2 linked regions of the Homo sapiens genome follow. The protein of the gene in region 2 purifies or fractionates together with the protein of the main gene of each other region. This does not show direct contact. Each region holds a gene or a part of one and is shown on either strand. Other genes may lie near its edges.

Evidence for each region.
Region 1: the proteins of LBX2 (region 2) and TRPC4AP purify together in Homo sapiens (affinity purification with mass spectrometry; one large-scale study listed by BioGRID and IntAct). This does not show direct contact.

What each region holds. Positions count from the first base shown.
Region 1 is NC_000020.11:35,040,778-35,044,428, forward strand, and holds part of TRPC4AP (short transient receptor potential channel 4-associated protein), read right to left. Parts: intron 1-3,651. UniProt on the Homo sapiens protein: Substrate-recognition component of a DCX (DDB1-CUL4-X-box) E3 ubiquitin-protein ligase complex required for cell cycle control.
Region 2 is NC_000002.12:74,497,420-74,501,170, reverse strand, and holds LBX2 (transcription factor LBX2), read left to right. Parts: upstream 1-1,567; 5' UTR 1,568-1,633; coding exon 1,634-1,838; intron 1,839-2,852; coding exon 2,853-3,244; 3' UTR 3,245-3,654; downstream 3,655-3,751. UniProt on the Homo sapiens protein: Transcription factor.

The DNA of each region.
Region 1 (3,651 bases), on a different chromosome or scaffold from region 2:
CAGATGGCTTATCATGGGACTCCTCCGCCTGTGATCGTGTGAGCCAATTCCCCTAACAAATCCCACCTCATAAATCCTACTGCTTCTGTCTCTCTGGAGACTGCTGCCTAATACAGGGAAGTAATTAAGGTTAAATGAGGTTACAAAGTGTGGGGCCCTAAACCGAGAGGACTGGTGTCCTTCTAAGAAGAGGAAGAGACACCAGAGATCTCCGTCTCTCCTCAATGACAGAGAGGAAAATTCATATGTGGATACAATAAAAAGGTGGCCTTCTACAAGCCAGGAAGAAAGGCCTCAACCAGGAACCAATCCTGACAGCACCTTGATCTTGGACTTCTAGCCTCCAGAACTGTGAGAAAAATAAATGTCTGTTAGTTAAGCCACCTAGTCTACGGTACCTTGTTATGGCAGCTCAAGCTGACTGATACACACACCTGAGATAAAGGCATTCACTACTGGAGCGCAATTCAAGAATGATAACATTCAGAGGACTAAGACTTTCCTCATCCACTCGTGATTTAATTATGTCCACCAGCTTGGCCTTCCCAGGGCATTTGAATGGAGAAAATCGTGCGGGTAAGGGAATGGAGTAGGAATTATGGTCAGGGTTGGGAAGGGTCAGATCCTGCACAACCTCATGTGTGGAACTACAACTTTTAGGCTTTATCCCAAAAGCTACAAGCAGAATCACACATAGACTGTCTACTAGGCTAGTCACACAGATATGAAAGTGAATCTAGATTATTTTATAGAGACTTTAAGAAAAAACTCCCAAATAAAAAAACAAAAACAAAAACTGGGCTTTCCGTTCTCAGTTAATCAAAAAAGCCCAGCTGACCAGAACAGTTCATTCCTCAAGAATAATGGGTAATGCTGGTTTTACTTAAGTCAGTTTACAAATAGGCATCTGAAAGCAATCAATACTAACAGGATCAAAATCATCTGCCAGAATAGATTCCTTAAATGGGAAACTAAAAGATGAAAGTTACTTAGTGCCTCGGCATACACAGGCATCCAATACAGAACCTTTCTAGCCCTCAGTTTCCTCACATGTGCAATGGGGATACTAATCTCTATTCCACAGGGCACTTGAAGGATTAAATAAAATCACTTCTAGGTAAAGCAGTTACCCAGCGTTTGCCACATACCAGGAGCTTAGCAAATACTACCTTTTGTCAATGTATATGGAGGTGTGTACACCAGCTCTGAGGTATAATTTAGTTATAATGAAAGTCACTTTTTTTAAAATTATACTTTAAGTTCTAGGGTACATGTGCACAACGTGCAGGTTTGTTACATATGTATATATGTGCCATGTTGGAAAGTCACATATTTTTTAAAAATGTAAATTTCCTAAAATGAGAACTCCCCCAAAATCATAAAGGAGTGGGAAGAAAACCGTACACAGACCAAGGAAGACCTTGTATCTAGTGACACAGGAGGAAAAGCAAATCTAGAGAGAGAATAAACTGGGGTTGGAGTCCACAAACTTCTACCTTTACATATGACTACAACATGTAAAATTATATTCCCTAATAACCTACAAAGTATAGTTATGATCACCTCATGTTCCTAACTAAAACTAGACAATAACAGAGTGAATGGCAGGTTCATATTCAGCCTCAGGAGAGGAGGCTGCTCTGAAGCACTTGATAACTCTGCAGAGCCAGCCTGGGGAATGCACACAACTGGACTTTAGAAACAAAGAACTGTTTTCAGAGCATGATTAGGGCTACCTCTGCATGGTCATGGTTTTCTACTGCTGCTTTTTAATGATACATTTGTATAATTTTACCTTGTTTATTTGGTGTACCATAAGGTACACAGTGATAGGTTTTTGTATTAACAATATTTCCAGCCTGTTAACATTGAAAAACTAGCTTTTAAGACACAAGTTTCAGTTCAAATATGAATTATCTACACTCTTATGACCAAAATACATCTATGCCAGTTTCTCCAAAATCTGTGCAGGCAACAACATTTTAGATAGAACACAGTTCTTTTGCTACTGAACAGAAATAGGTGGGCTAGATTGGTTAGAATAGTGTTTTGTTTTTAAGTAATATATTTACACGGTTCTAAAATCAAACAATATATGAAAGTATACAGTAAGGAGTCCCACTCCCACTGCTACTACCTTCCCTTACCAGCTACTTCCTATTAATAACCACTTTATGTTTCTTGTGTACCCTTTGTTTCTTTAGGCATACCATATATGTGGGCAAACGTATGGTCTTATTCTCCCCCTGACTTAATACAAAAACTATACCATATACACACTGTTCTGTATTTTCCTCTTTATCATTAATATATCTTGGAGATTTTTCTATAGCAGTACATAGAGATCTTCATTTTTTCAAAGCTACACAATTTTCCATTATATAAATATTGAATACACTAAGCAGTCCAGTGTTAATGAACATCTGGGTTTCTAGTCTTTTGTTATTACAAATAATGTTGCAATGAATAATTTTTTTTTTTTTTTTTGAGACGGAGTCTAATTATGTCGCCCAGGCTGAAGTGCAGTGGTGCAATCTGGGCTCACAGCAACCTCTGCCTCCTGGGTTCAAGCAATTATCCTGCCTCAGCCTTCTGAGTAACTGGGACTACAGGCGTGCACCACCACACCCAGCTAATTTTTGTATTTTTAGTAGAGATGGGGTTTCGCCATGTTGGCCAGGCTGGTCTCAAACTCTGAACCTCAAGTGATCCTCCTGCCTCGGCCTCCCAAAGTGCTGGGATTACAGGCGTTAAGCCACCGTGCCTGGCCTCAGTGAATAATCTTGTACAGTAGTCCTCCCTTAGTCAAGACCCTCACAGTGGATACCTGAAATGGCAGATAGCACCAAACCCTATATATACTATGTTTTTTCTTATATACACACATAACTATGATAAAGCTTAATTTATAAATTAGGTACACTAAGAGATTAACAATAACTAATGATAAAATAGAACAATTGTAACAAGATGCTGTAATAAGAGTTATACGAATGTGGTCTCTCTCTGGAATTTTTCAGTTAATATTTTCGGATTGCAGTTGACCACGGATAACTGAAACCACAGAAAGTGAAACTGCAGACAAGAGGAGATTAGTGTCTATACATCATTATCTATAAAATGAAGGCCCAGGAGAGACTTAGTAGATCAAAAAGTATATGCATTTGTAATTCTGATAAAAAGTAGTTCTTAACTTTTTTTGTGGTTCTGAGCCCATTAACAAATCTAATGAAAGGTATGGAACTCAGTTCCCAAAATAATGAACAGATACACAAAATTTACATACTAGGAGCCTTCACATGGATCCATCTCTAGAGATATTTAAAAGGGGTGCTAGGTGTGGTGGCTCACACCTGTAATTCTAGCACTTCGGGAAGATGAGGTGGGTGGATCACTTGAGACCAGGAAGTCAAGACCAGCCTGGGCAACATGGCGAAACCCCATCTCTACAAAAAATACAAAAATTAGCCCGGTGTGGTGGCACCTGCCTATAGTTCCAGCTACTCAGGTGGCTGAGGTGGGAGGATCACCTGAGCCTGGGGAGGTCAAGGCTGCAGTGAGCCACGATTGTGCCACTGCACTCCTGCCTGGGTGACATAGTGACGATCCCATCTCAAAAAAGGAAAAAAAAAAAAAAAGAAAAGAAAAGAA
Region 2 (3,751 bases):
GCTCAGCTTTCCAGGAGGGCATTATGTGAATGTTGCGGGTGGGGGAGGGGGGTTGTTGGAGTGAGCCCTTTACCAAGAAGACCCTATCAAGGTGCCTTCCCATCTTTGTCAAGGAGTCTTTGGCCCAGGTGCCTTGGATCTCCTAAGCCCTGTTTAGGGAACCCCAATTGCATGCAGCAGTTGCCCCAGGGAATAGACAGGTGGACACTGCACAGATGGTGGGAGATGCAGGGGTCTACAAGGAAAGTGACATAATGGACAGTCCAGGAGGGACTGGCCTGGTTTTTCCTGACACTGTTTTAAAAAGCTAGAAGCACATCAGTTTCTGACTTCCCTGGGCAGCAAAGCAGCAAGCTCCTCAGGAGTGGCAGGGCTTCCCTGCTCTAAGGTGTGAATCCTCCAGCTGTTTGGGGTGGAATGTAGGAACAAAACCCATACCCTGCTGGGCCTCAACTGCTGAGGCCCCACTGTCCCTGAGCTGCCTTCTTCCTACAAAGGAGGGCTGTGGGTGCTTACCCAGGTATGAGCCCAGAACCAGAATAAGTGTGGCAGATAAAAAGGGCCCAGATTAAATAGGAATGAGTATACCAGGCCTCACAGTTAGTACCTGGGTTGTCAGGAATGTCCCAAGATCCAGCTGGGTCCGTGAAGTCTGCCCTTCAAGTCTCTCTTCTATGGGGAGTGACCCCTCTCTGGTCAGGGCACCTTGCTCCCCTTGGCAGTTTCTGAGCCTCTGCAGGCTGGGGAAACCATACATACCTGAACTATGGGAGCTTAATAAAAAGAAGATAAAGACAGACAAAATCGACTGATTTTGCCAGTCCTCACTGACAAAGACCCCTCCTGGGCAGTTGCACCAGCTGGGAGTTCCCTGGGTCTTCTCTCCTGCGGCCCGGGTCTCCCGGCAGCTTCTCTGTGTGTTCTGATTTCGTCAGGTGGGGCAGCCTCGGGTCCATTCACCTGTGCTTGCTTCTTCGTGGCATCCCCACTATTCCCAGTTGCAGTCGCTCCGCCAGGCCAGGTCCTCCCAAGTGTTGCGCCCCCGACCCATGCAGCACTAATCACTTCCAGCCGTCAGGACCAGAAACAACGTTTCTCAGGGGTGGGGTGGGGAAGAGGGAGCCAGGTTAGGAGACTGAGGTCCTAGCTGGGATCAGAGATCCCAGCACAGTCAGCCCTGATAGCCTTCCTCAGAACTTTGCAAATCCCCAGCCGCTGGGGCCAGAGAAGGCAATTTTATCGTCTACTAGTTTATGAGCCGGAGCGGCGGCTAGGCGGGGAGTCGGCGGCATACAGCGTCTGGAGGTATGGCCCGGCCTGACTGTGCACGGTGCAGCGCCCCGCAGCGCGGAGCAGCCCCGTGGCCCTGCTCTGGTGGGTAGTTTGGTCGGCTTCTGCTCTCCGCGCCTGCCCCAGCCTGTAGAAATACCCTCCCCGGACATCTAGGAGCTCCAGATCCACCGCGGCCCGGGGTGGAGAGGTGGGGGCGCAGGAGGAGGGGCACACGGGACTCGGGCCCAGAGCCGGGGGCGGGTCCGAGGCTGGGGGCCCGGATTGGGAGCCGAGCACTGGGGCCCAGGCGTTTGCGGAGCCTAGCGCAACGGACAGCCGGACCGCCCCAGCCCGGCCGACCATGAACTCGGGACGCGAGCCCCGAACACCCCGGACACTCTTAAGCATCGCAGACATCCTAGCCCCGCGCATGGTCCCCCGAGCACCCTCTGCGCCGCAGCTTCCAGAGTCGGGTCCGGGTCCAACGTCGCCGCTGTGCGCGCTGGAGGAGCTGACTAGTAAAACTTTCCGCGGACTTGACGCGCGCGCTCTGCAGCCCTCTGAAGGTATAGAGCCGGCAAGGTCGCGGACTCTGACTTAGCCTTTTCCTCACCTCTCTCCTCCTGGTTCCCCGTCTCAAACCTTTGTCCCAGCCCAGGCCACCCACCCTAATCCTCCCCTGTCCTCAGCCCACGTGCCAGGACTCGCACCTGCGACTTCTCACCTCTCCTCCGTTAGTCCCTAGGTTCCGCGGCGGCTCCGGAAGGCCGCCAGTGCCAAGGGAAAAGGGCAGACCGTCGCCAACTGAGCGACCTGTTGCTCTGTTCCTTGTAGGCGGGGCAATCGCGATAGAGAAAGGCAGGAGAGAAAGAGACAAAAGGCTTCAGCCGCAGGCGGTAAACGAGTGAGCCTGCAAAGGCGGCACAGAAAGCGCTGGAGAGTCGAGTCTTTCCGGGTGACCAAGCTCCGCTCCAAGCCACTCTCTTCTCGAGGGGAGTCAAGGAGCAGAAAGCCCTTGGCGCAGCACTGGGCGCGGGATTCCGCACTCTGCCTTTTCTCGCTCTCTGTACCTCATTATCTCCCTTTGGGGCCGGAGGAGCGGGCTCTGGTGTCACTAAGGAACTGTAAACCGAATGCCCGACCCGATCCATGGAAGGGCATGATCTAAGTCCTGTTACCACCACCACGCTGGGTCGGCTGCCCTGACTCTTACTCGCCTCTGATGTCACCCTCAACTTATAGCCTGCTCAGCCTGAGGCTCCTAAAAGCCTCAAAGGCTCCACCCCAGAAGGTTTGACCCTGCACCTCTGAATCATCCCTCCCTTCCTTCACTTCCTTGCCCCTACAATATGCCCTCAGCCTGCTGCCTTTCGCACCCCTGTGGCCAGCCCGCTTTGCGCCCCATATCCCCACCTGGGCCTGACTCCCGATAAGGGATCACAGTTCTGGTCTCCGTCCGCCTTCCTGGCTCTCCCTCTACTTCCCCCACCGCCACCGGCCCGACCCCACCCCCAACTTTTCTTTCCAGGCCCAGCCTGATTCCCGGAGGCTGGAAACTGACCCCCTCCCTATCCCTACAGGGCGGGCAGGTCCGGACGCGCTGGGCCCTGGTCCCTTCGGCCGCAAACGGCGCAAGTCACGCACTGCGTTCACCGCGCAACAGGTGCTGGAGCTGGAGCGGCGCTTCGTCTTCCAGAAGTACCTGGCGCCGTCCGAGCGAGACGGGCTAGCTACGCGACTCGGCCTGGCCAACGCGCAGGTGGTCACTTGGTTCCAGAACCGGCGAGCCAAGCTCAAGCGCGATGTGGAGGAGATGCGCGCCGACGTCGCCTCGCTACGCGCGTTGTCCCCGGAAGTCCTGTGCAGCTTAGCACTGCCCGAAGGCGCTCCAGATCCCGGCCTCTGCCTCGGCCCTGCCGGCCCTGACTCCCGGCCCCACCTGTCAGACGAGGAGATACAGGTGGACGATTGAAGACAAAGCCGCCGCCAATCCTGGGCTCTGGGGCCCTGGACTCCTCACCTCGCGCTCTGCCTCTGGCCAGAGTTCCAGGGTGGAGGAAGGAGGTCCACTTGGGCCTCTTCCGGCCCACAGTCCAGACGCTCACCTTTCCCGGTTTTTTTGTAAGTTTGTTTTGTTGTCTGAGACAGGGCCTCGCTCTGTCGCCCAGGCTGGAGTGCCGTGGAGCGATCACCGCTCACTGCAGTCGCGACCTCCTGGGCTCAAGCGATCCTCCTGCCTCAACCTCCCGACTAGCTGGCATTACAGGCGTGCAGCACCACCCCAGGCTAATTTAAAAAACTTTTTTTTTTAGAGAGGAGGTCCCGCTATGTTGTCCAGGCTACTTTCCCAATATTTGAGAATAAAGTCGAGACTCTGCCGCACCATGCCTCTATCCAGACGCCCGCCAGAAGCAAGAAACAGTAAAATCTGTAAAGTGCTATGGGGAGTCCGCACTTGGCACTGTGCCAGGGCTTTCAA